Linked DNA regions of Homo sapiens. The protein of the gene in region 4 interacts with the protein of the main gene of each other region in a biochemical or structural test. Each region holds a gene or a part of one and is shown on either strand. Other genes may lie near its edges. The genes, in order: COPB1, CCNF, COPA and SCYL1.

The links.
Region 1: the proteins of SCYL1 (region 4) and COPB1 form a complex in vitro, tested with the Homo sapiens proteins (one study listed by BioGRID).
Region 2: the proteins of SCYL1 (region 4) and CCNF form a complex in vitro, tested with the Homo sapiens proteins (one study listed by BioGRID).
Region 3: the proteins of SCYL1 (region 4) and COPA form a complex in vitro, tested with the Homo sapiens proteins (one study listed by BioGRID).

The regions. Positions count from the first base shown.
Region 1 is NC_000011.10:14,489,266-14,497,253, reverse strand, and holds part of COPB1 (coatomer subunit beta), read left to right. Parts: intron 1-2,814; coding exon 2,815-3,044; intron 3,045-3,442; coding exon 3,443-3,612; intron 3,613-6,574; coding exon 6,575-6,689; intron 6,690-7,988. UniProt on the Homo sapiens protein: The coatomer is a cytosolic protein complex that binds to dilysine motifs and reversibly associates with Golgi non-clathrin-coated vesicles, which further mediate biosynthetic protein transport from the ER, via the Golgi up to the trans Golgi network.
Region 2 is NC_000016.10:2,439,208-2,447,195, reverse strand, and holds part of CCNF (cyclin-F), read right to left. Parts: intron 7,844-7,988; coding exon 7,739-7,843; intron 7,448-7,738; coding exon 7,370-7,447; intron 3,548-7,369; coding exon 3,396-3,547; intron 1,805-3,395; exon of another isoform or gene 1,739-1,804; coding exon 1,574-1,738; intron 1-1,573. UniProt on the Homo sapiens protein: Substrate recognition component of a SCF (SKP1-CUL1-F-box protein) E3 ubiquitin-protein ligase complex which mediates the ubiquitination and subsequent proteasomal degradation of target proteins.
Region 3 is NC_000001.11:160,305,251-160,313,238, reverse strand, and holds part of COPA (coatomer subunit alpha), read left to right. Parts: intron 1-71; coding exon 72-154; intron 155-1,220; coding exon 1,221-1,371; intron 1,372-2,980; coding exon 2,981-3,047; intron 3,048-4,062; coding exon 4,063-4,138; intron 4,139-5,993; coding exon 5,994-6,076; intron 6,077-6,745; coding exon 6,746-6,885; intron 6,886-7,465; coding exon 7,466-7,551; intron 7,552-7,640; coding exon of another isoform or gene 7,641-7,667; coding exon 7,668-7,806; intron 7,807-7,988. UniProt on the Homo sapiens protein: The coatomer is a cytosolic protein complex that binds to dilysine motifs and reversibly associates with Golgi non-clathrin-coated vesicles, which further mediate biosynthetic protein transport from the ER, via the Golgi up to the trans Golgi network.
Region 4 is NC_000011.10:65,527,750-65,535,737, forward strand, and holds part of SCYL1 (N-terminal kinase-like protein), read left to right. Parts: intron 1-2,879; coding exon 2,880-3,038; intron 3,039-3,826; coding exon 3,827-3,934; intron 3,935-4,942; coding exon 4,943-5,056; intron 5,057-7,477; coding exon 7,478-7,633; intron 7,634-7,988. UniProt on the Homo sapiens protein: Regulates COPI-mediated retrograde protein traffic at the interface between the Golgi apparatus and the endoplasmic reticulum. Involved in the maintenance of the Golgi apparatus morphology.

The DNA.
Region 1 (7,988 bases), about 51 Mb from region 4:
TGTCTCATCACGTATGTCGATTGTTTCCTTTGCTGTGCGGAAGCTTTTTAACTTGATGTGATCCCATTTGTCCGTTTTTGCTTTGGTTGCCTGTGCCTGTGGGGTATTATTCAAGAAATTTTTGGCCAGACCAGCGTCCTGGAGATTTTTCCCAATATTTTCTTGTAGTAGTTTCATAGTTTAAAGTCTTAGATTTAAGCCTTTAATCCATTTTGATTTTATTTTTGTGTAAGTTGAGAGATGGGGGACAAGTTTCATTCTTCTGCACATAGTTTTCCAAGCACCATTTATTGAAGGGACTGTCTTTTCTCCAATGTATGTTCTTGGCACCTTTGTCAAAATGAGTTCACTGTAGGTGTATGGATTTGTTTCTTGGTTCTGTTATTTTCCATGGGTCTTTATGTCTGTTTTTATGCCAGTACCATGCTGTTTTGGTTACTGTAGCTATGTAGGATAATTTGATGTCAAGTAATGTGATTCCTTCAGTTTTGTTCTTTTTGCTTAGGATAGCTTTGGCTATTCTGGGTCTTTTGTGGTTCCATATAAATTTTAGGATTTTTTTTTTTTTTCTGTGAAGAATGTCATTGGTATTTTGATGGGAATTGCATTGACTCTAGATTGCTTTGGGTGGTATGGACATTTTAACAATACTGATTCTTCTAATCCATGATCATGGAATATCTTTCCATTTGTTGATGTTCTCTTCAATTTCTTTCATCAGTATTTATAGTTTTCATTGTAGAAATCTTTCATTTATTTGGTTAAATTAATTCCTAGGTATCTAATTTTATCTGTGGGTATTGTAAATGGGATTAGATTACTTCTTCAATTTCTTTTTCAGATTGTTCACTGTTGTCATATAGAAATGCTACTGATTTTTGTATGTTGATTTTGTGTCCTGGAACTTTACTAAATTTATCATATTTCTGAATTTTAAAAATGTATACCGTGTCTCCTTTTTGTGAGTGATTCTGTCAAGAAAAAAAAAATTTATAATTAATATGCTTTCCAAAGTAATGATTCTTGTTTAATTGAACTGCTAAAAATAAATACAACTTAAACTGATAAATATTGTTTAAACAGAGCAGAGTGAAAATTATGCTTCAAATATAGAAAGGATCTTTTAGAAGATAGTTTGCAGTTTGAAAAGAAACTTAATATTTTACTTGCCTATTCCCACTTCTTAATCAGCAGTAATGGAATACCTCCTGATTCTAGGTTACTTAATACTAGGTTTCTATTGAGGTCTATTTTTAGAGAAGGGAAAAGAAACCCAGTTTTATGATATTTAAAATGATACCATTATATACATAAGCCACATATATTTCCCTTTTTTCATGTTCATGTAGGATAGTTGAATGCAAAATAGTGAATACATTCATTAGTGTTTTTCCTCATAATTTAAAAATTTTCATTGTTAGATCCTCAGGATACCTAAGGTTATAGCTAGGAAGGTAAAGAATAAAATCTGCCCTTAGTTGGAACAATGCCCTAGTCTTAATTGAAGCTGCCTTAGCTACCTTCCTCCAACCAATAAATAAATACATACTCTCCAGTTTAATGTATATTTTTGCCATTAAGAAGAGTTGAGACTGGGCATGGTGGCTCATGCCTGTAATCCCAGCACTTTGGGAAGCTGAGGCAGGTGGATCACTTGACTTCAGGAGTTCGAGACCAGCGTGGCCAACATGGCGAAACCCCATCTCTAGTAAAAATACAAAAATTTTAAGTGGCTATTAAATGAAGAGTTCTGTGGGCCAGATGAACCACCGCATCTGACGCTCAGAACTCTGTTTCATAGCCGCTTAGCTCTAATCATTAGAAATGTATTTCTCATATTTAGGCCCAAATCTGGTTCCCGGTAACTACTACCCATTAGTTGTAGTTCTTTTCCTCATAATGGCCCTAAGGTTATTGAAGACTTGTAATCATTCTTTGTTCTCCCCTTCCCAAGATAATTCATTTATTTTGATGATCTAAACAGTTGTAGTACAGTGTGCTACTACATACTTCTCTGCCTTTGAGTTTTGGATCCAGAAGATTTTTAGTACTATAAATTCTTCAGTATGCAATGATAATGGTGTGAAATTTTAGATAGTTTTGCGTAAAATACTTTATGTTGCAGAGTTTTTAGGCTAAATAACAGTAAACTAGCATTTTATCTTTAATGTGTCATCCTTAATTCTAAATAATGACTACTAATCTAGAACATTTGAATTACCTCCCAGTTTTCCAGATGATATCTTAAGAAAGATTCTAAAGTTTTACAGCCTGCCTGCAGAACTATGATGAGATTTTAGAAATAATCCACTACTTTAGTTTTCAGCCTTTTTGAGTATGACGTTTCTCTTTCTAATGTTAAAAAAGTTACATATTTATCCTCCCATAATAGTAGTTTTAACTTTGTTAAAATGCACACAAATAGCTAAAAGCTGTTTTGAATTCAAAATCAATTAATAGTATGTATTTACATTTTGAAAAATAGCTATATGTGTTTTGAAACACGTTTACTTGGTATGACTGTAGATTCATGGAGCCTGCATTAACTCAATTGGTTAGGAACCAGAAATCTAATCCAGCGCCTTCATATTATATATAAAGAGTCTGATTTCCAGAGATAAATGACTTGAGCAAAGACAGATTATTTGGTGGAGAACCAGGTGGAGAACCTTGTCACTTGGGTTTGTACTTTTATTACCATTGCTGATACTGAAGTAAGAAGGTACATTTTATTTTGTTAATTGCTTTTAAATTTATGTGATGAATTTTCTTTTGAAATAATTGTGCTTTTTTTTAAAAAAATTTTTGATTCAGAAAAAGGAGATGTAAAGTCAAAGACTGAAGCTTTGAAGAAAGTAATCATTATGATTCTGAATGGTGAAAAACTTCCTGGACTTCTGATGACCATCATTCGTTTTGTGCTACCTCTTCAGGATCACACTATCAAGAAATTACTTCTGGTATTTTGGGAAATTGTTCCTAAAACAACTCCAGATGGGAGACTTTTACATGAGATGATCCTTGTATGTGATGCATACAGAAAGGTAAACCAAATCATAATTATTTCTGAATATTGCTTTGAATTTAAATGTAAAATTGGTAGAATGGGCTGTGTTTTAATTGTTAAAATTGAGTCTTTGATAAGATGTAAGTTGTAGAGATTTGGAATTGTAAAAGAGTTATTTTTAAAAGTTTTATTGTCACTTTTCAGACATTTTCTATGCATTTTATGTGTATATATTAATTAAAAAACAGTGACACACATATAAGACATTGATGAGATAGGTAAAAATTGCTTCAGTCAACAAGAATATGATGGAAATTGTCGGTAATCTAGGTTTTTTCTCAAACGTATTTTTTTTCCATTGGAAAGTTTTGCATTAAAATTTTCTTTTTGTAAAAAGCTGAAACTCAGCATTTCATATTTTAATTTTTATATCAGGATCTTCAACATCCTAATGAATTTATTCGAGGATCTACTCTTCGTTTTCTTTGCAAATTGAAAGAAGCAGAATTGCTAGAACCTTTAATGCCAGCTATTCGTGCATGTTTGGAGCATCGACACAGCTATGTTAGAAGAAATGCTGTTTTGGCCATCTATACCATCTATAGGTAAATAAAGATACTGCTTTGGCTTCATTCTGTGAGTACTGTTTAGTCTTTTAGACTAGTGGTTCCAAAGTGGTTGCTTGCAGACTGAATATAGCTTGAAGATATATTTTGTATGGCCAGCACTGTATTTTTTATTATGAACATTGAAAAGTCAAAAGATCTGGCAGCGCTGTTCCTAGCTTCCACAAGACAACATTCTGCTGAACTTGTATAACAGTAACCCCCTTTAAATAAGTTATATACTTTACAGTTTATGACAGTGCTTGTCATTCTCAACCGTATTACTCCAAGCCACTTTATATGTTCACTTGCTTAGCCTCTATAGGCTTTTAACTTTGGTCCTTGTTTTAGAATTCGTTTTGTGGAATGTCGGTCTTTTTACTGTCAGAAGCTTTGAGGAAGGAACTTTTTAAATGAGAAGGGCTACAGTTATAACTGAGTCCAATTCTTAGAAAGCTGAAGATTTTGAATTTTTATTTGTTTTTGTTTTGTTTTGAGATGGAGTTCCACTCTCGTTGCCCAGGCTGGAGCACAGTGGCGCGATCTCGGCTCACAACAACCTCCACCTCCCGGATTCAAGTGATTCTCCTGCCTCAGCCTCCCAAGTAGCTGGGATTACAGGCACCCACCACCACGCCCAGCCAATTTTTGTATTTTTAGTAGATATGGGGTTTCACCATGTTGGCCAGGCTGGTCTCGAACTCCTGACCTCAAGTGTTCCACTCGCCTTGGCCTCCCAAAGTGCTGGGATTGTAGGTGCAGGCTGCCACGCCCGGCTGAGATTTTGGATTTTTAAACCAATTTAAGGAACCAGTTAGATGAAGCTAGAATGCTCAGTTTTTACAGTCACAGGTATCAATTTATTAAGGACTACAATGTAATTTTTATAAGCATCTTTGTACTTTAGTAGATTTGTTGGTTAAGATATAATTTCATAGTTATCTTACTGTTAGATTTTATCCATTAAGGAAAGTGGTATTCTGGTTAATAATGTAGATGAGCCAGGCGTGGTGGCTCATGCCTGTAATCCCAGCACTTTGGGAGGCCGAGGCGGGCCGATAACCTGAGGTCGGGAGTTCGAGACCAGCCTGACCAACATGGAGAAACCCCGTCTCTACTAAAAATACAAAATTAGCTGGGCGTGGTGGCACATGCCTGTAGTCCTAGCTACTCAGGAGGCTGAAGCAGAAGAATTGCTCGAACCTGGGAGGCAGAGGTTGCGATGAACCGAGATCGCGCTATTGCACTCTAGCCTGGGCAACAAAACCAAAACTCCATCTCAAAAAATAATAATAAAAATAATAATAATAATAATAATGTAGGGTGAGTTCCTTTAATGTTACCATACAGACTACACAAATTTCAGAATTTAAACTATAGTGCACATAGAAAAATTAGGCCATTTATAGGACAATTGGAAATGTGAACACTATGTCTTGATATTAGGAAATTATTAATTTTGTGAGGTGTGATGATGAATAATTAGTTTTGCAAGTAAAGAGTCCTTGATTTTAGAGAAACCTACCAATATATTTACAGAAGAAAGGATACATTGCCTGTGATTTGCTTCAAAATAATATGGCAAGAGGTAAATTTGGCAAGGATATAGATGAAACAAAACTAGCTATGAATTATAATTGTTGAAGCAAGGTGATGGATTTTATTAAGCTAGTGTTCACTCTTCTCTGTACTAATATTTCTAAATTTCCAAAAGAAGAGGCAAGTCAGTAAGCAAATAGTACACAACTAATAAAATTCAAGGGACTATGTTTTTCCTCTTAATGTAATTCTTAATATATTGATATGCTTAAAATGTATGCACAACAGTTATTAGAGACATTGGTTAACAGATGGTGTGTTGAATAAATCAGCTTTTTCTGTATTGAACTAGAAAACGTATAATTTGATAATTTAATAGATGAAGGTATAACTTTGTGTTTCCTTCTACCAGTTCCTTTTTTTTTTTTTTTTTGAGACAGAGTTTCACTCTTGTCGCCCAGGCTCGAGTGCAATGGCACGATCTCAGCTTACTGCAGCCTCCACCTCCCAGGTTCAAGCAATTCTCCTGCCTCAGCCTCCCAAGTAGCTAGGATTACAGGCATGCGCTACCACGCCTGGCTAATTTTGTATTTTTAGTAGAGATGGAGTTTCTCCATGTTGGTCAGGCTCATCTCAAACTCCCACCCTCAGGTGATCCGCCCACCTGGGCCTCTCAAAGTGCTGGGATTACAGGTGTGAGCCACTGCGCCCGGCTCCTTCTCCCAGTTCTAATTGATTTGAAGTTTCAAAAAGCAGGCCGGGCGTGGTGGTTCATGTCTGTAATCCCAGCACTTTGGGAAGCCGAGGTGGGTGGATCACTCGAGGTCAGGAATATGAGACAAGCCTGGCCAACGTGGCAAAATGCTGTCTCTACTAAAAAAATAACAAAAATTAGCCTGGCATGGTGGCACGTGCCTGTAGTCCCAGATACTCAGGAGGCTGAGGCAGGAGAATCACTCGACCTAGAAGGCGGAGGTTGCAGTAAGCCGAGATCACTCCACTGCACTCTAGCCTTGTCTGGGCACGGTGGCTCACACCTGTAATCCCAGCACTTTGGAGGCCAAGGTGGGCAAATCATGAGGTCAGGAGTTCAAGACCAGCCTGGCCAACATGGTGAAACCCCATCCCTACTAAAAATACAAAAAATTAGCTGGGCATAGTGGTGGGCACCTATAATCGCAGCTACTCGGGAGGCTGAGGCAGGAGAATTGCTTGAACCCTGGAAGTGGAGGCAGCAGTGAGCTGAGATCGCACCACTGCACTCCAGCCCAGGCAACAGAGTGAGACTCTGTCTCCAAAAAAAAAAAAAAGCAAAAGTATGTTGTAAAGTTTGATTAAATTTAATTTTGGTATTGTCCAGAGAGTTACTAAAATAGTAAAGTAGGCTTTTATTAAATATGGATGTTACCTGTTTTATTTAAAGAAATTTTGAACATCTTATACCTGATGCTCCTGAACTGATACATGATTTTCTGGTGAATGAGAAGGATGCAAGTTGCAAAAGGAATGCATTTATGATGCTAATTCATGCAGATCAGGTGAGGTACTTTTTAAAAAATACTCTTATTACTGTATTTAAGTGACAATTGAAAGTATTACATAGACTTAATCATGTTTTTAGTCAGTAATTTTGTTTATAGTTCATGTGGTTTGTGTATTTTGAAATTTTTAAGCTTGTAGAAAAATACATTTTTTTCTTAACCCTTCTCTAAAATATTGCATATGTATACATTCTTTTTTCAATTAAACATTGAAGAGGCATTTTAGAGCAGCCACCCTACAGTTTTTAAAAATTAAAATTATTATGACTGTTCTTTCCTATGATGGTATAGATCTAAAATTGTTTAGTAGAGAAAAATAGTAGCTTTGCATAGATACATCCTTAGCCATGCCTGTGGAAATAGGGTGGCCTTCAGTGTAGAGGTGTATCCTTTTAGGTTCTTCAACTTTCATACACGGGTGCCAACTCCACATCCTGCTCTGCTGGTGGTTAAAGTACATGGATCTACTTTTGGTTAGCAATTACTCTGTACACCTTGATGCCATCTAATCTTGAAATTTTCTAGCCAGTATTTATCACCAAAATATGGGAAATAATATGCATGAAGTCTGAAAAATATGGAGGCCTTCCAGTCCTCTGAAATCTAGACACTGTGACTTTTTTCCCCCAGATCTTCCTTTAATGGATTGTCCCCCAGTTATTTAAAATTGTGGTAACATACACATAACAAAAAAATTTACCCTCTTAACCATTTTTAAGTGTTCAATGATTTTAAATACATTTATAATGTAGAACCATCACTATCTTCCATCCTCATAACTTTTTTTGTCTTGCAAAACTGAAACTCTGTACCCATTAAAAAATAGCTCCTTATTACCACTTCCTCCCAGTCCCTGGCAGCCACCATTCTACTTGCTGTCTCTGTGATTTTGACTAAGTATTCCGGATAAGTGGAATCATACAGTATTTGTCCTTTTGTGACTGGCTTATTTTACTTAGCCTAATGTCTTCAAGGTTCATTTATGTTGCGGCATGTGTTGGAATTTCTTTCCTTTTTAAGGCTAAATAATACCCCATTGTAAATATATGCTACATTGTGTTTACCTGTTCATCCATTGGTGGACACTTGGGTTGCTTCAATCTTTTAGCTATTAGGAATAATGCTATTGTGAACGTAGATGTACACGTATCTGTTTGAGACTTTGCTTTCTGTTATTTTGGGTATACACCCAGAAGTGGATTTACTGAATATACAGCAATTCTGTTTTTAATTATTTTAGGAAGTGCCATACTGTTTTGCACAGCAGCTCTACCATTTTACATTCTCACTAGTAGT
Region 2 (7,988 bases), on a different chromosome or scaffold from region 4:
GAAATTGGACTCAGCTCCCTGAAACGTTTTTAGCAGTTATTCTCTCACTGCCAGCCGGTTGTGGCCCAGGAGCTTTGTCGTAGGTTGCAGTGATGGATGTGCAGTCAGATCCAGGGAGGCGGCCGCCCGACCTCCTCAGTCGTCTCTGGTCGGAAGACCTGGGACGCTGGATTCAGGCCCAAGAGCGCATCTGAAGACAGCTCTGGATGCTTGTGGCAGGGTTTGCTCCCTCCTTCCATGGGAATGACACTGCATCGAGCTGGCACACACAGGCCCGAAGAGACTACACCTCCCAGTTCCCGTCTGGTGAGATGTGGTCACAAGACTAAGCTCAGTGCAAAGGTGAATGTGGCAGGTACAGGTGTCACAGGGACAAGGGCAGCACCCTAGTTGGTGGCAGAGATTAAGATGGGAGATGGGGCTCCTCTGCTTCCTCATGAAACAAAAAACATGCCAATGACCTGAGCCTGGAACCTCTGCCTCTGGGTTACCTGTGCAAGAAAGAAACAAGTCTCTGTAGCTTACACATATGCTGTGTGCAGCCAAGCCTATCCTCACCCACCAGGCTCTACAGAGGAGTCGGTCTGGAAAGCACTTCCTCGGGAAATGTAGACCATGCTGGGGACAGCTGGTTTAGGAAATGCAAATCGTATTGTGAGAATCATTTCCACGTTATTTCCAAAGGCGGAACTAGGGGATCCAGCATTAGTTAAAGGAAAGCAGTGGTCTGATTTGAAAAGGACAGGCTGCCGTGTAAGGACGCACGCTGCTGCTGAGAGACACCCACGTGGCTGGAGTGGGCTCTGCAGGGCACCAGTGGGGGACGAAAAACTCTCTAACTCCAAGAGTGTAGGAAACTCTGGCAACAGACTTTAGAACCCAACTTCAGAGAAGGGCAGCCAACTGCCACCCTCCCTGATCAGTCATCCTGCTGCCCTCAGGAGCCAGGGGACAGGGCAGTCCAGCCTGTGCCTGCCAGAGCGAGGCCACACTTTGGGTCCTGAGACTGCATGCCAGGATGAATTGCCTGGATGCAGGCACCCCACACAGCGGCCCCCACACGCTGAAGGCTGTTCTGCCACCCCTGCCTGCAAAAGGCCCTCAGCGTGGCACTCCATGTCTGACCAGGTGGGACACTCGTGGCTCATGAGTCAAGAACCAGTGAGGGCCAGGCGCAGTGGCTTGTGCCTGTAATCCCAGCATTTTGGGAGGTTGAGGCGGGCGGATCATTTGAAATCAAGAGTTTGAGACCAGCCTGACCAACATGATGAAACCCCGTCTCTACTAAAAATACAAAAAAATTAGTCGGGCATGGTGGCGCACGCCTGCAGTCCCAGCTACTCTGGAGGCTGAGGCAGAAGAATCACTTGAACCTGGGAGGCAGAGGTTGCGGTGAGCCAAGATCGCACCACTGCACTCCAGCCTGGGTGACAGAGCGAGACTTGGTCTCGGGAAAAAAAAAAAAACAACACAAAACAAAACCAAACCAGTGAGGAGCACATGAAGGGCAGGTGACCCTGAACCCGGGAAAGGCCAGCACGTCCCTGCCAGCTGGGCCAAGGGGGCTTCTCACCGGGTGCAGATGACCATGCAGGCGATGCCCAGCAGCTGGAGCCTGTACCGCGGCACCAGCCTCCTCCGCAGGTACCGGTCCACACACTCCACGGTCAGGTGCAGGCACAGGCTTGTGAAGTCCTTCATGGTGGCAACTTCCACCAGCCAGTCGATCAGAATGTACCTGCGGAAAGAGAAGCACGTGGGAACTGGTGGGGGCGTTCTCCATGTGTCCCTGTCTGCGATTTCAACCCCACCTGTTGGGCCCGACCAAATAAGCTGGCTAGCTCTGGAATCATGGGTTTACCCTGGAACCAAGGCTGGAGAGGCCATGTCACAGGAAGCCCGGGAGGCTCCGTGGGTCCCAGCCCCAAAGCAGGCCCCACATCCTTCGACTGTGTTCCTGGTGCTCCCAAACACAAGCGCTTTGAGACCTCGACCTGACGCAAAGTGAAAAGTCAGCCCACAGCCGTTGGTCTGCCCACAGTGGATGAACCCTGACCCTCGGGGCGTGCAGGGAGCGGGAGAAGGTGGACAGTCGCAAGGGAATGCCCCAATACGGTAAATGATGCCCCAATATGGTAAATGCCTTTCTGAATAGAGTGGAGACACTTGTAGTCCTACTTGGGGGACTGAGGCAGGAGAAAGGCTTGAGCCCGAGGCAGAGGTTACAGCAAGCCGAGAACACACCACTGCACTCCACCCTGGGTGACAGACAGCCTGCCTCAAAAAAAAAAAAAAGATGTTCAATGTGTTCTGTGGCTTAAAAAAGATCACTGCACTGTGGGAGGCTGGGGCAGGAGGTTCGCTTGAGCCCAGGAGTTCAAGACTAGCCTGGGCAACATAGTGATACCCTGTCTCTACTAAAAATACAACAATTAGCTGTGCATGGTGGTGTGCATCTGTAGTCCCAGCTACTCAGGAGGGTAAGGTGGGAGGATCTCTTGAGCTTGGGAGGCGGAGGCTGCAGTGAGCTGAAATCATGCCACTGCACTCTGGCCTGGGTGACAGAGCCAGACCCTGTCTCAAAAAAAAAAAAGGTGGCTGGGCGTGGTGGCTCACGCCTGTAATCCCAGCACTTTGGGAGGCGGAGGCAGGCGGATCACGAGGTCAGGAGATTGAGACCATCCTGGCTAATACGATGAAACCCCATCTCTACTAAAAATACAAAAAAATTAGCTGGGCGTGGTGGCAGGCACCTGTAGTCCCAGCTCCTGAGGAGGCTGAGGCAGGAGAATGGTGTGAACCCGGGAGGTGGAGCTTGCAGTGAGCCGAGATCACGCCACTGCACTCCAGCCTGGGTGACAGAGCAAGACTCCGTCTCAAAAAAAAAAAAAAAAGTAACTGAAGAAAGCAGAGTAGGATATTTTCTTCCAAAAAGTCCACGATAACTTTGGCATTACTGGTTTTAAAAAACACCCAAGGCTGGGCGCGGTGGCTCACGCCTGTAATCCCAGCACTTTGGGAGGCCAAAGCGGGCGGATCACGAGGTCAGGAGATTGAGACCATCCTGGCTAACATGGTGAAACCCCATCTCTACTAAAAATACAAAAAATTAGCCGGGCATGGTGGTGGGTGCCTGTAGTCCCAGCTACTCGGGAGGCTGAGGCAGGAGAATTGCTCGAACCCAGGAGGCGGAGCTTGCAGTGAGCTGAGATCGCGCCACTGCACTCCAGCCTGGGCGACAGAGCGAGACTCCACTTCAAAAAAAAAAAAAGGGTGATAAGGGAACTCTATGCCGCCCTGTCACAGGTAACTGGGGTTAAGTGGAAAGGGCTCCCTTCCCCTGGAGGCTGGCTTCCGCGCCGCTCTGATTAGAAGCCCCGGCCTGAATGCCTCACCTCATTGTGTCATTGAGTCCCTTCTGCACGGAGAAGACTTGTTGTTTACTGACAGCCTGGGAAGCCTGAAATAGCTGGCAGACGATCTCACTGGAAGCTCTCACCTCCAGTCCAAGCTGGTTTGCATTTGCACAGGCTTTGGCTAAAGACAGCTGAGGAAGAAAAGACAAACATGAGCGTGAGACAGCAGCCATGTTGCAGTTTTCCATTTCTGAAGCAAAGGCCCATTCAGGCACCAAATGCATGTGGACACACTGCCCTACTTAACTTAAACCTTCACAAGCTTCGGGAACAAGGATGGCTCAGGTTTTAATTATTATTCCTTTTTGTATAAGTAATAGATGACATGAGAAAAGATATATAATGAAATGTCAGTGGCCTTTCCACCGTGGCTCAGGTCTCAGTTTCTTACATGGCTAATGCCTGGGGAAGCTGTGTTAAGTCTCTGGCCATACGCCCCAGTGCTCTCCGAAAGGCTTCTGCCAATGTTTACACCCAGGAATAGGAGCACCTGCCTCATCACAGCTTCATCCCAGCAAACACTGTGATTATTAAAAACAGCTATTTTCAGAAGTTACCAGCTAGCCACCCAAAAACAGAGAAATATATATATATTATATATTATATATATATTATATATAATATATATTATATACAATATAAAACATATAATATATAATATGTAATATATTATATATAAAAATATCTATTATATATAATATATCTATAATATATATTATAGATATTATAACATAATATTATATTATATATTATAGAACATATAATATAATTATATAATATATAATTAACATAAATAATATATAATATATAAATATATAAAAATATATAATATAATAATATATAATAATCATATATATTAATATATATTTATATATTATATAATATATAATATATAATTATAATATAATATATATAATATAATATATATTATATATAATAGAATATAATATTACATATATTATAGAATATATTATATATTATAGAATATAATATATAATATTATATATGATATATATTATATTATTATAATTATTATATAATTATATGTTATACAATATATAAATACATATTTATATATAATTATTATATAATAATATGATATTATATATAATATTATATATTATATATAATAATATTATATTATATAATATTATATATTATATATAATATTATATTATATAATATTATATATTATATATAATAATATTATATTATATAATATTATATATTATATATAATAATATTATATTATATAATATTATATATTATATATAATAATATTATATTATATAATATTATATATTATATATAATAATATTATATTATATAATATTATATATTATATATAATAATATTATATTATATAATATTATATATTATAAATAGCTGGCAGACTAAATATAATTATGTTATAATATAATAATAGATATTATAAATATATCTAATTATGGATATTATATATATATAATTAAGGGCTGGGTGCGGTGGCTCAAGCCTGTAATCCCAGCACTTTAGGAGGCCGAGGCGGGCAGATCACGAAGTCAGGAGATCCAGACCATCCTGGCTAACATGGTGAAACCCTGTCTCTACTAAAAATACAAAAAATTTAGCTGGGCGTGGTGGTGCAATGCCTGTAGTCCCAGCTACTTGGGAGGCTGAGGCAGGAGAATGGCATGAACCCAGGAGGCGGAGCTTGTGGTGAGCCGAGATTGTGCCACTGCGCTCCAGCCTGGGCAACAGAGCAAGACTCCATCAAAAACAAAACAAAACAAAACAAAACAAAACAAAAACAAAAACATATATATATATATATATATATATATATATATATATATATATATAATTTGCTAATATCATGAGCCCAAAATATCTCATTTAAAAGTGCACTCTTATGACTAGTAGTAAGGTTGAACATTCCAATTTCTAACCACTTGAGTTTATTTATTTATTATTAATTTTTTTTGGCCAGGTGCAGTGGCTCACTCCTGTAATCCCAACACTTTGGGAGGCCGAGGAGGGCAGATTACTTGAGGTCAGGAGTTTTAGACCAGCCTGGCCAACATGGTGAAACCCCACCTCTACTAAAAATACAAAAATTAGCTGGGCGTGGTGGCAGGCACCTATAGTCCCAGCTACTCAGAAGGCTTGAACCCAGGCGTCAGAGGTTGCAGTGAGCTGAGATCGCACCACTGTGCTCTAGCCTGGGCAACAGAGAGAACTCCTGGCTTCAAGTGATCCTCCCGCCTCAGCCTCCCAAAGTGTTGGGATTATAAATGTGAGCCACTGCGCCCGGCCCTATTTCCTCTTTTGTGAGAATTGACTGAGGCCCCTTGAACTTCCACGAGAACTACGTTGTTGCATTTCTTGTAAACAATGTTTTTGTTGAGATAGGGTCTCCCTCTGTAGCCCAGGCTGAAGTGCAATGTTGCGATCACGGCTCTCTGCAGCTTTGACCTCGCAGGCTCAAGTGATCCTCCTGCCTCAGCCTCCTGAGTAGCTGCACTACAAGGCACACGCCACCACATCCAGCTAATTTTTTTTTTTTTTGAGATGGAGTATCGCTCTGTTGCCAGGCTGGAGTGCAGTGGCACAATCTCGGCTCACTGCAACTTCCTCCTCCTGGGTTCAAGCAATTCTCCTGCCTCAGCCTCCCGCGTAGCTGGGACTCTAGGCACATGCCACCAGGCCCAGCTAATTTTTTTGTATTTTTAGTAAAGACGGGGTTTCACCACATTGGCCAGGGTGGTCTCGACCTCTTGACCTCGTGATCCGCCCGCCTCAGCCTCCCAAAGTGCTGGCATTACAGGCATGAGCCACTTGCACCCAGCCCATCCAGCTAATTTTAAAATTTTTTGTCGAGATGGAGTCTCACTATGTTGCCAGAGCTGGTCTTGAACTCCTGGGCTCAAGCGATCCTCCCAACTCAACCTCCTACAGCGCTGGGATTGCAGGCGTGAGCCATCACGTCTGGCCTTCTTGTAAATCTGTAGACTGGCTTTTTGGACGTGAACACCACAATGTGCTATGACACCTCGGGCTGGGCCATTATCAATTTGTAATTTTGTCCCTAGCATTTGAGCGCAGATCACTCTGCCACCCACTTGGTGGGGTGACAAGAACAAGCTTCTATCCATTTGGCAAATAGGAGCTTTCTTTGATTCGTCCTGACAACTTTTTTTTTCCTTCAGACAGAGTCTTGCTCTGTCGCCCAGGCTGGAGTGTAGTGGTACTGCAACCTCTGCCTCCCGGGTTCAAGCGATTCTCCTGCCTCAACTTCCTGAGTATCAGGTGCCTGCCACCACGCCCAGCTAATTTTTGTATTTTTAGTAGCGATGGTTTCACCATGTTGGCCAGGCTGGTCTCGAACTCCTGACCTCAGGTCATCCGCCCACCTTGGCCTCCCAGAGTGCTGGGATTTCAGGCGTGAGCCACCGCACCTGGCCCTAACAACTTATTTATAGCTGTGAGGGGAGAGTCTACCAATGCTTGATTTCCTGCCTGTAGCCCTGGATGACTTGGTGACCAGGTGACATGACAAGCAAGGCGCTAACAGGAAGAGGAAGCAGGAAGGGACTCTCCACGCCCCTCTGCTCTCAAGTAGCCTCAAGTTTTGTTGTCAAGATCAGTTCTACCTATGGGACAACTTTCAAGAATGGCACAAATTTTGACAGCAGCTATAGCTCACAAGCATTTGAAAATTAAGAGGTTGGCTGGCTGAGAGGCAAGAGTGGATAGGCAGAGATGAATAACGCATTTCCCAGCTCTTCTCACAGTGTACCTGTCCTTTAGGACCAGTTCCAGTGCTGAACCGATCTTAGGGTGTCCCTCAATCCTGGCCTCCCATGTGGGAGCCCAGATAGTCCTGCCCCCCAATGTGGGAGCCCAGATAGTCCTGCCCCAAGGCTGGAGGGAGAAAGGCCAGCTCCCCACGTCATCCCAGCCCCGCACCTCACCTGCGCTTCCCAGCAGCCTTTGGCAGCGTAGTCCCTGAGTTTTCGGAAGCTGTGGAGGCATCGCCCAGGATCTGACACCTGTCAATGGGAGATCACCGAGCCTTTGTACAACTGTGTCTTGGGAGGAACTCAGAACCAAGACCCAGAAGGGCCGACACTACGCTAACTTCCCACCTCTTCTCTCTCAAATGGTGGAGTCATTTTTGGGGGTACCAAGAATAGCCGACTGACCAGTGGTTCCCGGAGGCTGAGAGACCGGGAGCAGCAAGAGCCACCTCCCTTTTGTGGACAGAAACGCATCCAAGGACCAGCATCAACTACGCCTTTGTCCAGCATAACTCCCCCCGACCCAGAGCAGGCACCACTCACATCTGTCCTCCTGTCGCTTTCCCAGAGGAGGTAGGAGCTGGTCAGACATCCCTGATGAGCAGCCTCCTCAAACAGGTCATGGGCCTGCTGCTGCTTCTCCTCATCCTAGAATAAATCCCAGCAGAGTTCATTGTTCCCTTATTCTTTTTCATTTTTATTTTTTGAGACAGTTTCACTCGTCGCCCAGGTTGGAGTGCAATGGCGCCATCCTGGCTCACTGCAACCTCCGCCTCCTGGGTTCAACCAATTC
Region 3 (7,988 bases), on a different chromosome or scaffold from region 4:
AATATTCTTGTGTAGGATGGGCTGAAGATTCCTAGGAAATTAATGTTTTTCTTTTTGTGTACCTTTTCTAGGACTGGGGTTCAGACTTTCCGCAGAGACCATGATCGTTTCTGGGTCCTAGCTGCTCACCCTAACCTTAACCTCTTTGCAGCAGGTAAGGGCCATTTTCTCTCTTTTTTCTTTGCTTAATTCAAAGTTTATAAGTCTTGAAAGTGATTATTAGCTTTGTCTCTAGTAAATGTATAGTAGGATGACAAGAAGAAGAAGGACTCTCAGAGCCACTTAGTTGAAGCTTTTCTCCTTTTTTTCTTCCACTTTATATGTACGTAAAATGATGTGTGGTGAAAAATGCTTTGAAGAAAAATTAAAGGTAAGGCAGATAGAGACAGATGAGTATGGGGACTGCTGCTTTATATTGGGTGGTTCAGAAAAGTGAAAGGGTATGAGGCAATGGGAACAGCAAATGCAGAGACTGTGTTGTGAGAGGTGCTTAGCATGTCACCATCACATGCTAAGGAACACCAAAGAGGCCAGTTGGAGCACAGTGAGTAAGGGACTGAGTAACAGGTGAGGTCTGGCCAGATCGTGTATTGCCTTCTATGCCATGGTTAGAACTTAAGATTTTATTCTGAATACATGGAAAGCCATTGGAAGGTTTTGGGCAGGAAAGTGACATGATCTGGTTTATATTTGGAGAGCAGACAGTAGGAGAACAAGAGTGGAAGGGTTTTCTAAGGGATGATGGTGCTAGTAGGGAAAGAGCAAAACATTTTAAAAAACAGAATCACAAAGGGTTTTTAACATCCATTTTTTCAGTAAATACTTCTTATACTCTTTTTATATGCTAGAGACTGGGGAAGGATGGAAATTATAATTTCTGCCTTCAGGGAATTCATGTTACAATGTGGGTGATAGACCTAAATGATTACAGTGCAGGATGATAAGTACTGTAATGGAGGTTTGTACAAAGCATTAGGGGAACACAGAAAAGGGCAGTGTGGATAGTGACACTAAGTGTGGCAGTGTGAATAGTATTAGGAAAGGATTCACAGAGAATTATTTAAATAAAGATTCCAAGAATTGTGAGAATTTAGGCAAATAAGGGATGCATTCAGGTGTCTTGTCTTACAGATATAATCTTCATCCTTACGTATCTCCAATTTCCAGGTTTTTTTCTTGCCTACAGCTTAATTTTTTCTCCTCCTCTCCCTGTCCCCCAGGCCATGATGGTGGTATGATTGTGTTTAAGCTGGAACGGGAACGGCCAGCCTATGCTGTTCATGGCAATATGCTACACTATGTCAAGGACCGATTCTTACGACAGCTGGATTTCAACAGCTCCAAAGATGTAGCTGTGATGCAGTTGCGGAGGTAAATCGGACTTGTTTCTTTCCTCCAAACCCTCTCATCTGTCACCCTGATACAACTCCCACAAACAAGACTCTTCTTTTCTTTCTTTCATTTATTTATTTTATTTATTTAATTTTTTTTTGAGACGGAGTCTCGCTTTGTCGCCCAGGCTGGAGTGCAGTGGCGCGATCTCGGCTCACTGCAAGCTCCGCCTCCCGGGTTCACACCATTCTCCTGCCTCAGCCTCCCAAGTACTGGGACTACAGGCGCCCGCCACCACGCCTGGCTAATTTTTTGTATTTTTTAGTAGAGACGGTTTCACCATGTTAGCCAGGATGGTCTCAATCTCCTGACCTCATGATCTGCCTGGCTTGGCCTCCCAAAGTGCTGGGATTACAGGCGTGAGCCACCGCGCCCAGCCTATTTATTTATTTTTAAATTTTTTTTTTTTGAGATGGAGTCTCACTCTGTCACCCAGGCTGGAGCGCAGTGATGCAACCTCAGCTCACTGCAACCTCCACCTCCTGGGTTCAAGCAATTCTCCTGCCTCAGTCTCCCAAGTAGCTGGGATTACAGGTGTGCACCACCACACCTGGCTAATTTTGTATTTTGAGTAGAGACGGGGTTTCGCTGTGTTGGTCAGGCTGGCCTCGAACTCCTGACCTTGTGATCCGCCCACCTCGGCCTCCCAAAGTTCTGGGATTGCAGGCGTGAGCCACCGCACCCAACCAAGACTCTTCTTTTAAATGACATTTTGGATCTCGTATTCTGTCACAGATGGAATCCCCATTAGATGAGCCCGCTCAGTTTAAACCCAATGAGTGAGGGAGGCAAGGAAGTGGTCATGAGTAGAATGATAGTTCCCTTCTTGAGAATGCTAGTGACCTTGTGGATGGAAAATCATTCTGCCACAATTTGCTGGGTCTCTTGCAAGCCAGAGGAAGTTTCTTGATAGAGAATGGCCCAAACTGGTAACAGAACTTTTCGCCTTTGTTTGGCATTTCTTTTCTTTAACTCTCCCTTGCCTTCCAGCAAAAAGTGCACAACTCTGAACCAGAATATATGTCCCTGGAAACTCTTAATTCTGAAGATACAATAACCTCTGGGATGCCTGGCAAAAGGACCTGTCCTTTTGAAAAGCCAGCTGCATCAGCATGCTGAAACATTCATGGTGGCAAAATTTGGAATGAGGTTTTGATAACCACCCTTTAGCATCATTACAATAAAAAAATGGGTTTATGTGAATACTCCAAGGGACAGGAGAAACCAGCCAGAGACAAATCACATTATGTTACTCTGTGGTGTCCACTGCAATTACGTGTAGGAATTTGTATCCAAGCAGAACCAGTCCCACTCACTACAGTGAGTGTTAACCCTACCTACCTTCTGTTGAATAATTTGACTTCTACTATGGCTTACTTTTTAAAACTGTTTGTTCAAAGCTGAGCTAGGGAAGTTGCCAAGCCTTAAAGGAAGAGAATACAATATTTATTCATTTTATTCCTGATTATAAAAGTGATGAGTATATAGTGTAAAGATTGGATAAGTAGGAGGTGTGGGGGTGATTCCTTTCTTCCTTCTATTCTTATGCCTCTTCCCTGTTTTCTCCTTTTTCTATATATATCTCTAGTGGTTCCAAGTTTCCAGTATTCAATATGTCATACAATCCAGCAGAAAATGCAGTCCTGCTTTGTACAGTAAGTAACCTGTGGAGCCCTCCTAGGTTCTCCTCATTTTCCATAGGTCTCTTTCTTATGCCCTTAGGGAATCTTTAATGGCTTCTTAGAAACTATTTAATGGTCATTTTGTGAGAGCTGACACAGTGATCACTCAGAGACTCAAATCAGGTAGGTTTCAGTTGTCGTAAACATATTGAGCATTTGTGAACTGCCTATCTTTCCTAAAGCTGAACTTAATGGAGCATCAGAATGAATGACCCAGATCACTAGAAATAATTTGAGAGAATGTTTAGACTATATATATATATTTCCTATGGAAAGAAAATGTTTACCTTGATCCCTTCCTTTGGGTGAAAATAGAAGAACTATTATTTTGAGAGGAAGTTCATATCAGTGGGGTTGGCTTCAGAGTCATCAATGACTCCTCTCTGTTTCTTGCAACAGAATTTGCAAAAAAAAAAAAAAAAGAAATGACATTCTAATTTTAGTGCCCTCGTGGCCAAGTTAAAAGGAATGAAGTTAAATGTCTTTCCTCATATAACTATATTGTCTAATCTGTTCTTCTTTAATATCTAGTAGTCCCATACTCTGAGTTTTCTTGAGTGTTTTTTCTTTTCTTCTTTTTCCAATAAACATTTGCATTCCTATAGTGTCTTTTCTTTGATGTCTTTTTTTTTTCCTTTCCAGAGGTTGAGTACTCAGTTGATGAGTCCTCAGGGTGGGGTACCAGAATATCAGGGTCCTAGTCTGTTAATTTGTGGAGTAGAGAGCATTTCTTACTTTCATTCAGATAATATCTGCATCTTTGGAGGATAAAGAAAATAAAGTGACATCAGTGCTGATGTGTTTGGCAAAGAGCCCTATAACTCATAGATGTAGAAACAGTCAAATGCCCTCTGGGTGAAGGGTAAGAAAAGTATGGTTTCAGATTGGTGTCTGTGCAATGGAACTGTTTTCTCTGTCAGAGTAAATTGGAAAACTGGTATCTTGGGTGCTTCTCACTAACATTTTAATTTCCCCTTTTCTTCTACAGAGAGCTAGCAATCTAGAGAATAGTACCTATGACCTGTACACCATCCCTAAAGATGCTGACTCCCAGAATCCTGATGGTAAGTGTTCTTTTTGTCTACCCCACTCTGCTTCCAGCTCTCCTCACCCGCATCATAACTCCTCTTCAAGTTTTTCACATTCCATCCCCAAGCCATGGCCACATCACTCATGTCTGTTGGCAGGTGCTGCTGACAATTGCATCAGAGGCGACCATGGTGTGAAATATTCATGTTCCTCCTCCATTTTATTACCCCAGCTAGATATATATATTTTATAATTTGGTTATTAGAAACTCTCCATTCTCTCTTTCAGCACAGCATGTTATCCTAGTTTATTGTCAGTTGATATGACTTTCACCCTGGTAGTTTCATTTATTTAAAAATGTGGTTCCAATCTTATAATGCCTCATCCTGGGACTAGGGATTTATACTGTCCTATCCACATCCAGATCCGATTTGCTTCCTTTTGCATGTCAAAAAGATGAGGCTGCTAACAGCCCCACACCCCACCTGGGATCCCAGGATCCAGCTGAGACTCCTGCCTACCTCTTCCATTACCACTATCCCTTGTTGATGTCCTTGTGATTAGAACTTGCTGACAAAACATTCTCAGAATGGATTTGACTATTGCCTATGGTCTTTTGGGTGCACTTCTTCCAGCGGGTTTATGGCTAGTACCAGGTCAGAGATTTATTCTGCAGATCCCCACTCTTACTGGCATATTTTAATGATATTTTAGACCCCATCAACAGATTCCTAAGAAATAATTTGCTAGCTCTGTTTCTTTTGTGGGTGCCCCTGGGTTATTATTGTTGCTAATCGATCTCCTCTCTTTTAAATGTGTTCATAGTGAGAGAAAGAAAAGATATTTGTATTTGGTATCCATAAGTCAAAGTCTCCCTTATAAATTAGTCAGTTAAGCCATTTCTGACTAAATCTTATGGTTTGGTACCTCCCAACTAGCTCTTTGCTTTTTTTTTTCCCCATCTGTGTTTACAATTAATAGAATTTAAAATATTTTGTTTTGTTTTATTACCACTTTTATTTTCTGTACTTCATTTTTTGAGGGAGATAATAATAAAGGAGCAGCCCAGTGGTGGGCAACAGAGATGGGCTTGAATAATGCAGATTCCTGGCCCCTGGAAAACGGGAGTGTTGGTTTTGATAATAATTAGTTTCATAAATTGCCTGCCACTCCAGATGCCAGGGGCAAGACTGGCCAGCATGTTCTCTCCAGTTTTCTGCTGGTCTAATAGGTAAAAGAGTATTTTGATGCACCCTTCTGTTTATCCTTCTACAAGTTTCCCAGAGAATGGAGTGTCCATTTCAAAATTCTAATAAGCCACTGAACTGAGGAACATTTTGTAACTCTCTTCAGGGTGATAAGAATGGTCAGTTGACATTTACAGAGCAACAACTTGGTTCTAAATACCGCCCAGCACCAAGCTCTCCTGTCAAGATTTAGTTGGGAGTGCTCTGCCTCACCCTGCCCTACTAGGAAGTCTGCATTTGCATGTTAAAAGCAGCAGAGAGCAGCTGCATCCTGTGGAGGGGGTCCTATGACACAGGCTTGCTTTGCCGCAGCTTGGCCAGGGAGGCCCTGCTCGTTAGCTTGATGGAGTGTGCTGTCTCCCAAGATGGGCGGCCCTTCTGCCAGTACATGATGTTGGCTGAAATGCAACCACTTGGCCTAGAGAAAAGAGCCTTGGCAGGGGTGGTGGTTGGTGTTTGGAGGGGACTGGTGGGGAAAAGTCACTCAATAATAGCCCCAGGTTATGGCTGAATTAGTTAGGAAGCAGCTCAACTGGCAAAGCCAAGATGGCATCCAGCAAGACTGGCAGCTCCATGGCACCCGACTATGTCACCTGCCAGTGACTCACCACATGCTCCCACCCTTTGGTTTTGTTCTTCTCAGCGCCTGAAGGGAAACGATCCTCAGGCCTGACAGCCGTTTGGGTCGCTCGAAATCGGTTTGCTGTCCTAGATCGGATGCATTCGGTGAGTTAAGACTAAAAGCAGAAACTAATTTGGGGAGTGTGGTGGCAGTGGCCTGTGTATTGCAAAATAAAGACCATTGTTTTTTCTGTTCTCCCCCGGGCAGCCGTGATTCTCATGTATTGGCTGTACCTCTGTCTCTAGCCCTACACTAAGCCCTCTTGGGGGAATGGCATTAAAACTGATTTGATTGGGTTGATGATCGCCGTGGCTCTGGGTTTAAGAACCAAGCTAAAGTCACTCTTGACTACAGGAGCCCAAAACGCATCAAATCTGAAGTGAGTGGGCTGGATGAGGAAATTTCCCTCCTTCTGCTGCCTCCATTGTTACTTGAAATGTAATAGGTCCAGCACAAGATAAAGCACTCTGAAGAAAATATTTAACAAAATTTAAGCCCCAGAAACAGTGTTTTCTCTCTCTCATTCATTGAGAAATTCAGACTTTAGTTGGGACTTCTCAGGATGTTTTAGTTGGAGGAGAAAAAATAATGTATTAAGGCCCTTAGAGAAGATCTTGGTTGGCATGGTCTGTCTGCAGTGGTAATTGACATGGACAGGACAAAAAATACTTAGTTAATTGAAGCTAAGGAACAATTGCTGAGGAACATCATCAGTTGTCATCATCATCTATACACATTTCTTCTCTTAACCCCATCTTTAATACTTATTGCAGCTTCTGATCAAGAATCTGAAGAATGAGATCACCAAAAAGGTACAGGTGCCCAACTGTGATGAGATCTTCTATGCTGGCACAGGCAATCTCCTGCTTCGAGATGCGGACTCTATCACACTCTTTGACGTACAGCAGAAGCGGTAACATATCAGGTGCCCCTAAGCAGACAGCCCTGTAGTTGGGGAGAGTGGACATCTTTAGTGGGAACCTTTTTTCCCCAAGTGAGTTTGTCTTGTGGCTTGGCCACTTCTTGTGCTCCAAGACTCTTTATAGTAACTTTTCCCTTCTGTGATCACTCTCCATTCTTCACGTCCACACTAGCATTACAGTGAGATTCTTGGTTATTTATCTGTTTTTACAGTACTTACCTGAACAAAGCGTGTTCTCCGAGCTTAGAATGAGAGAGAGACAGAGATTAATAACATAGTTCCTACATTTAAGGGAGCTTGCAGTCCAGTGGTGAAAACAGACATACACAGATTCCCTAATAATACAAGGAAATGAGGGAGAGGGGGTTGAGGAAGGGGTAAGTGCACAATGTGAGCCAAAATGTTTAAGTCACTGAGCTACTATGTAGGAATTACATTAAGTATTTTATGTAATTAGAATTACATTAAGAAATTGGGGTTTACATTAATTAGAGGGTGCAATTGATGTAGATCAAAGCCTGAGACAAGGGAAATAGATCCATTCATGTTTGCACATCTCTATCTATCTCAGGACTCTGGCATCTGTGAAGATTTCTAAAGTGAAATACGTTATCTGGTCAGCAGACATGTCACATGTAGCACTACTAGCCAAACACGGTGAGTCTTCATTATATCCACCCTGATTTAGAGACCATTCCCTTCCACCCCGATCCCTGCCAGTCTACGGCACTTACCCTATCCAACAGAACACTCATGCCCTTTGCCTCTTACAGCCATTGTGATCTGTAACCGCAAACTGGATGCTTTATGTAACATTCATGAGAACATTCGTGTCAAGAGTGGGGCCTGGGATGAGAGTGGGGTATTTATCTATACCACAAGCAACCACATCAAATATGCTGTCACCACTGGGTAAGTTAATTATCTGGGATACAGAATGGGAGAAGACAGCTTCCTGAAATCACTGTCTTGTCTTGAGATGTAACTGAAGTCCTCCATGAATTTTCTTCATGGAAAAGCCTTACCTGGCATATATGTGCAAGGGGCATCAGAACATTCTTTTTTCAACTTTTTTAAAATTGAGAAATCTAAAA
Region 4 (7,988 bases):
AAGATGTTGAATTGGTATAATGCACATATTCCAAAATCCAAAAAACATCTGAAATCTGAAACACTTCTGGTCCCAAACATTTTGGACAAGGGAGACTCAACCTGTACCTACTTCAAAGGGACCCAGTGAGGAGTCAGAATTGAAAATGTGTGGTATAGTGTTCTGTGCCCAGCAGGCATTTAGGGCCAGCTCTGGTTACTCCAGTCACTCCACGTGTACATTCTGGCTCTGGTCCCCAGGGGTGTAACACCCTGTACTGGCTGCAGGGGGGTGGGCAGCACGGTGTGGAGGAAGGTGAGGCGGACCTAGATCACTGTCCTCAAGAATCTAGCAAAAAGTAAACAGACCAGATCCCCAACCTTGGGAACTCTTGCTGGGGAAGAGACAGAAAACATAAAAACCATAAATAAGAGCCAGGTGCAGTGGCTCACGCCTGTAATCCCAGCACTTTGGGAGGCTGAGGCGGGTGGATCACCTGAGGTCGGGAGTTCGATACCAGCTGACGACATGGAGAAACCCCATCTCTACTAAAAGTACAAAAATTAGCCGGGAGTGGTGGCACATGCCTGTAATCCCGGCTACTCAGGAAGGCTGGGGCAGGAAAATCGCTTGAACCTGGGAGGTGGAGGTTGCAGTGAGCCAAGATTGTGCCATTGCATTCTAGCCTGGGCAACAAGAGCAAATCTCCGTCTCAAAACAAACAAAAGAACACCATAAATAAGAAAACCAGCCAGTGCGGTGGCTCCCGCCTGTAAACCCAGCACTTTGGGAGGCCGGGGCTGGCGGATTATTTGAGGTCAGGAGTTTGAGACCAGCCTGACCAACATGGAGAAACCCCGTCTCTACTAAAAATACAAAAAACTAGCCAGGCATGGTGGCGCATACCTGTAATCCCAGCTACTCCAGAGGCTGAGGCGGGAGAATAGCTTGAACCTGGGAGGCAGGAGGTTGCAGTGAGCCGAGATCGCACCATTGCACTCCAGCCTGGGCAACAAGAGCAAAACTCAGTCTTAAAAAAAAAGAAAAGAAAAATCCAGTGCAGGAAGGAAAGTACTGGAGTGGGTATTCAGGGATGGGCTCTCTGAAGTGTGACATTGGAGCTGGGGCCTGAAGGACATGACTGTGGGAGCCAGAGGGATGGTACCTGGAGTAAGAGTTCCAGGCAGAGGCGACAGCACGTGGAGAGATACTGAGGAGGGAGCCCTCTGCTTTGCCTCTGAACCTTGGTTTCCACATGTGTATAGTGAGGAGCATCTGGGTGCACTGGCCTGCAGGGTTGCTGTAGGGAGGAGGGAGGAAGGCTCTGCTCTATGCAATGCCCGGCCCCAGCCGTGTGTGGGGAAGACAGCGGGGGCTGAGAATCAGAATCAGGAGCAGGGGAGGAGAGTGGCAGACACTCCACAGACCCTGACCCAGCAGAGGTCATGGAATCTTGACTCAGATGCTGTGGGGCGGGGAGGGCCTTTGGAGGGTGGAAACCTGGAAGGAGAAGCTGCTGGAAACGCTGAGACCCCGTTGCCTCCTGGGCAGTGTCGGGGCAGCAGGAACTTTGTTACGTGGAGTTCTCCTCGTACGGCTGGCTCTGCCAAGCTACCCTTCTCCTTAAAGTGTACCCCATAGGAAATAGGGTTTCGGGAGCCTCCAGGAGAACATGGGAGGGCAGTGCCCAGGGGCCCCTCTTCCCATTGTTAGGTGGAGTGGTGGGGAGAACCCAGCTGCTACTCTCTTGATGTATGACCTTGGATGTGATTTAGCCTCTCTGGGCCTTGGCCCCGCTGAACCATGTGATCAGAGCACCAAGCCGGCCTCCCACGCTGGTCTGAGCTGCTCAAGGGCCATCTAGGTCCTCTTTGTCCCAAGCCAGAGGTCGCCTCTCCCCGGCCAAGCCGCGGCTATGGGGGTGGTGGTACAACAGAGAGCACAGGGACTTTGGAACACAACACTGGGTCATGACCCCTGCCTGGCCACTCTTGGCTGCTGACCTTGACCCTCTGTCTCCTCCTTTGTGAATGGGGGGAGTGACAGCATCTTTTGAAGGGTACAGCACAGGAGAGGTGCCAAACCAGTGAGTCAGACCCTCCTCTGACCGCTTCTTAGCTGTGTGACTTTGGACAAGCTCCTTGCCCTCTCTGTGCCTCAGCTTCCTTGTTGGTAAAATGTGGATTACATTAGCACCTACCTGGTAAAGTTGTGAAGAGGACTGAGATAATCTGTGTAAAGGTTTTAGCACATAATCTGTGCTCCAGAAATATGAATTGGGGGTATTATGGCCTCAAAGGGGGGTTAGGAGGACTAAAGGAGACCGTTGAGCTTACAGGCTGGTCCATTTTGGCTCAGTGGGAGGATGAGGTCTGGGAGTAAAGTGTACCTAATCCTTGCCTTCCCACGGCCTACCAGGAACTTCCTGCCCAATCCAGCCAGGGCAGGGAAACCAAGTAAGCCCCTTCACCTCTTTGATCTTCAGTTTCCTCCTCTGTGCTCACATCCTGGGTGGCGAGCAGTAGAGGCAACACTGATAAAGGGCCTGATGCCCTTAGTGATGCCTCTGCTGTCCCTAGTGGCTGCTCTCCCAGCAACAGGTCAGGTAGCCGCAATGGCAGCAACAGTCCCTAACCCACCGAGCATCTGCCGTGTGCCAGCCTGTTCTGCAGCTTTTATGTGCATTTTCTGGTTGAATCCCAGAACTATCCCGTAGATGGTAGAGCTGTTATCCCATTTTACATGGCAGGTAAGTGGGACAGTTGGGCTTTGAACCCAGGCAGCCAGGCTCCAGAGCCCATAAGGCCCATAAGCATCACTTCTCCTTGTCCTCACCCATGGCTGGGTTTGGGCTGCAACCAGGCTGATCTCTTCCCCGGGTCCCGTCCTCACTCCCCCAGATCAAAGAGCCAGCCGAGAAGCAAAAATTCTTCCAGGAGCTGAGCAAGAGCCTGGACGCATTCCCTGAGGATTTCTGTCGGCACAAGGTGCTGCCCCAGCTGCTGACCGCCTTCGAGTTCGGCAATGCTGGGGCCGTTGTCCTCACGCCCCTCTTCAAGGTGAGTGGAACTGTGGGGTCCAGAAGGCTGGCTGGGTGCACAGGAACTGCCAAAGAGAAGGCCCTGGGGTAGGGCAGGCTGTTTAGGGCAGACCCAAGCCCATATGAGCAGGAGCTTCCTGCCAGTGTCTATAAACAGGTACCTGACCAGCTGTCCCCTGGGGAGGAGAGACTCTGCCGCTAAAATCCTTTTTTCCACAAACCTCTGGCTTCACAACCCTCAGCCCTTCCTCCATTTCTCCGGGTCTGACCTGTGCACCTTGGTTCCCAGGGCCCAGGGGATTACCTACTCACCACCCCACTTTGCCCTCCTCCCTCCTGACTGCTTAGCACTCAGCTCACCTGACTTCTGGGGGCTGGATCTTCCACCCTTTCCTCAGACCCCAGCCCGCCTTTTTATGGGCACCTGGCATTCCCTGCCCTCCTCACCTTGGGGAGAACCCTTTCATCTGAAAGACTTGTCAGGAGGGGAGAAGACAACAAGCAAGTCCTGTATAGCTGAGAACCCCCAGAAATTGCAGGCAGAATTTCTGCATATGGCATAAAGGTACCTGTTTGTAGGGAGGGGCCCAGAGCTTTCATCAGCCTCCTGAAAGAGGCCTTGGCCCAGAAAGGTTAAGGGCAAGGCTGAGATGGAATATGGGTAGAGGAGCTACTGAGGAAATGCCTGCCCCCCCCTCCGCCATCACTTCATTCCCACCCTGGGATATCAGCCCCAGGAATTTAGATAAGCCCAGCAAAGTCAGCCCATTCCTGTGAGCAGCTGAACCCATCTTCCTGCCCTTTCAGGTGGGCAAGTTCCTGAGCGCTGAGGAGTATCAGCAGAAGATCATCCCTGTGGTGGTCAAGATGTTCTCATCCACTGACCGGGCCATGCGCATCCGCCTCCTGCAGCAGGTGAGGCCTCTGTACCAGACTCTGTGGTGGTCCACCCAGACCCCAACCTGGTGGCTGGGGAGGCACCTGCCCTGGCTGCACAGGGACCCCAGAAACCCCACCCCTGAACATACACACAACTGAGGGACCCAATGAGGCCAGGCTCTCAGAAAGTTGGCCACATACAGGGCTCCTTGGCAGTTTTGGGAATGGCCAGCTTGCCCAGGCTGCAGCGCTCTAATGCCCCCTCCTCTCCTGGCTCAGTCACTCTGGCCCTCTAGAGTGGGGATACAGTCTTTCTCCTGCAACCCCAGGGCAGCTGGGAGCATCAGACAAGATGGATGGGATCTAGGAAGTACCAGTGGCTCCCAGTGCCATTCCCTCTGTGACCACCAAACACACCAGTCCTCCTCGTGGCACTGTGGGCAGGTGGGGAGGAGCAGGGAAGGGGTGATACCCTCATTTATAGAAGAGGCTCAGGCTGGGCGCAGTGGCTCATGCCTGTAATCCCAGCACTTTGGGAGGGCCGAGGCAGGCAGATCACCTGAGGTCAGGAGTTTAAGACCAGCCTGGCCAACTTGGCGAAACCCCGTCTCTACTAAAAATACAAAAATTAGCCAGGTGCGGTGGTGGGTGCCTGTAATCCCAGCTGCTCAGGAGGCTGAGGCAGGAGAATTGCTTGAACCTGGGAGGCAGAGGTTTCAGTGAGCTGAGATTGCGCCACTGCACTCCAGCCTCGGTGACAGAGCAAGACTCTGTCTCAGAAAAAAAAAAAAAAAAAAAATAGAAGAGGCTCTGAGAGGGTGGCCAGATGAGCCGGACTATGAGCCAGGCCTTCCTAGCGCCCTCCTGGCCTTTCCTCACTCCTCCACCTGGGCCTGAGGCCAAACACCTGGGTGGTGGCTCAGGAGGTTGACCTGGCTGGCCAGTGCCTGCTGGGTGGAAAAGCTAAGCCAGGAGCGGTTCCATGGCTATGGGGATAGAGTGGGAAGGGCTGACCATGTTGACGCATCCCAACCTGGGCCACAGATGGAGCAGTTCATCCAGTACCTTGACGAGCCAACAGTCAACACCCAGATCTTCCCCCACGTCGTACATGGCTTCCTGGACACCAACCCTGCCATCCGGGAGCAGACGGTCAAGGTGGGTGTGGCCAGGCCCAGAGTGGCTACCCCTGGTTTTCCAAGGCTTGGAGGGGCTCACCCTAGACACAGAGGCCTTGGCTTTGGCCCATGGGTCCAAGCAGACACTGTCCTTGCTGTGTGGGTTCAGGCCGTGGGTGCAGCTCGGCAGCTGGCGGGGGAGCACGTCCTCCATTCAGCAGACAACGAGCATCTGCCTGTTCCTGGCCCAAGCCCCATGCTGGGAGGCAGCATGCATGAGGTGCCCAGCCCCCTGCACTCATGGAGCTTCCTTTCCAGGGCACAGAGGGTGGGCTTGCCAGACAATACAACAGAATTAGAAAATATGTATTGTTGGCTGGTCACGGTGGCTCACGCCCATAATCCCTGCACTTTGGGAGGCTGAGGCAAGCGGATCACCTGAGGTCAGGAGTTCGAGACCAGCCTGACCAACATGGCGAAGCCCTGTCTCTACTAAAAAGTACAAAACCATCTGGGGATGGTGGCGCATGCCTGTAATCCCAGCTACTCGGGAGGCTGAGGCAGGAGACTCAATTGAACCTGGGAGGCAGAGGTTGCAGTGAGCCGAGATCATGCCGTTGCACTCCAGCATGGGCAACAAGAGGGAAACTCTGTTTCAAAAAAAGAAAGAAAATATGCATTGTTGGAAAGTGTGGGGAGAAGAGTTTGTGGTTTTAAAAACAGTGGTCAGGGGCTGGGCGCAGTGGCTTACGCCTGTGATCCCAGCACTTTGGTAGGCCGAGGTGGGAGGATCGCTTGAGCCCAGGAGTTGGAGACCAGCCTGGTCATCATGGCCAAACCCCATCTCTACAAAAAAATACAAAAGTTAGGCGCGTATGGTGATGCACGCCTATAGTCCCAGCTACTCGGGAGGCTGAGGCAGGTAGGTAGCTTGAGCCCAGGAGGTTGAGGCTGCATTGAGCTGTGATCGTGACACTGCATTCCAGCCTGGGCAACAGAGTGAGACCTCATCTCAAAATTTAAGAAATTATTTTAGGCCGGGCCTGGTGGCCCATGCCTGTAATCCCAGCACTTTGGGAGGCCGAGGCGGGTGGATCACCTGAGGCGATGGGAGTTTGAGACCAGCCTGGCCAACATGGTAAAACATGGTAAAACCCCATCTCTACTAAAAATACAAAAAATGGCTGGGCCCGGTTGCTCACACCTGTAATCCCAGACTTTGGGAGGCTGAGGTGGGCGGATCACAAGGGCAGGAGATCAAGACCATCCTGGCTAACATGGTGAAACCCCGTCTCTACTAAAAGTACAAAAACAATCTAGCCGGGCATGGTGGTGGGCGCCTGTGGTCCCAGCTACTTGGGAGGCTGAGGCAGGAGAATGGTGTGAACCTCGGAGATGGAGCTTGCAGTGAGCCGATATCGCGCCACTGCACTCCAGCCTGGGCAACAGAGCAAGACTCCGTCTCAAAAAAATAAAATAAAATAAAAATTAAAAAAATTAGCCAGGCATGGTGGTGGGCGCCTGTAATCCTAGCCACTCAGGAGGCTGAGGCAGGAGAATTGCTTGAACCCAGGAGGCAGAGGTTGCAGTGAGTAGAGATCACACCACTGCACTCCAGCCTGGGTGACAGAGTGAGACTCTATCTCAGAAACAAAAAAGATACGGAGACGAGAGTGGCTCTGAGGCTTGTGGCCTGAGCAACTGGAAGGTTAGGAGTTGCTATTTACTGAGATGACACAAGCATGTTGGGCCCCATCTTGGCTGTTTCTGTTAGGCAGCTGGATGGAGATGTCGAGTTGGCCACTGGTTATGCATGTGTGAAATTTAGGGAAGTCTGGGCTAGGGGTATGTGCCTGGGGGTTGTCAGCTCACAAGATGGCATTGAAAGCCATGAAATGGCTGAGATCACCTAGGGCAAGAGTGTTAGATAGAAAAGAGCCCTCTAGATTGGCTCCGGGTGTGTGAACGTTAGAGTCTCAGCAAAAGGAGCAGCCAGCCAGGTCAGAGGAGAACCAGGAGGGGGTGGTGTCCTGGAAGACCAGAGACCAAAGTTTCAGGGAGGGAAAACTCAGGGGTGTCAGAACTGCTGAGGGTCAAGTTTGGTGAGGATGGAGAACTGGCTGTTGAAATTAGTACCGGGGAGGGCATCAGTGACCTCACCCTGAGCCAGTTTGGCAGAGTGTGGGGCTGTTTGTGTGAGTCTAGGTGGAGTGCCATCAGGAGAGCAGAGCAGAGGAAATGGGAAACAGGAGTGCAGACAGACTTTGGAGGTTTTGCTGTAAAGGGGGACAGAAATGGGGTCCCTTTCTTCAACATGCTGGACAGGGCCAGGCCCAGGCTGGGAGGTGGCCTTGCAGGCTTTGATGGGTGTGCTCTGGGATGAGGGCTGCCAGGAGGCTGTTCCTGCACAAGGCCCTTTGCCCGCCACAGCCCACAGTTCCCACTCATTTCTGCCCCACAGTCCATGCTGCTCCTGGCCCCAAAGCTGAACGAGGCCAACCTCAATGTGGAGCTGATGAAGCACTTTGCACGGCTACAGGCCAAGGATGAACAGGGCCCCATCCGCTGCAACACCACAGTCTGCCTGGGCAAAATCGGCTCCTACCTCAGTGCTAGCGTGAGTGTCCTGCACAACTGCTGGAGCCCGGTCCCTGTCGCAGGACCACAGCCTCCTCCAGGGCCAGGAGTCTTGTGTGTGGGGGCCTTCATTCTCCCAGAGACTTAGACCCTGCACGCTGTTGGCCCCATATCTGGGTTCCCAGAGGAGGAGTGAGTTGGCCGAAGTCACACAGTCAGGAGGGATCTGGGATCTGAATCCAGGCGTGCTTGGCCCCATGGCCTGTGTGCATCCCTTCAGCCAGGGTTTGTAAGTTCAGTTGCTTGCCGTGCCCAGACAGTTAACAGGAATGAACGGTCAGCTGGGCAGGGAGGAAGGGAGCCTGTGTCCGAGCCCTGGGGACAGCTGCTGTTGT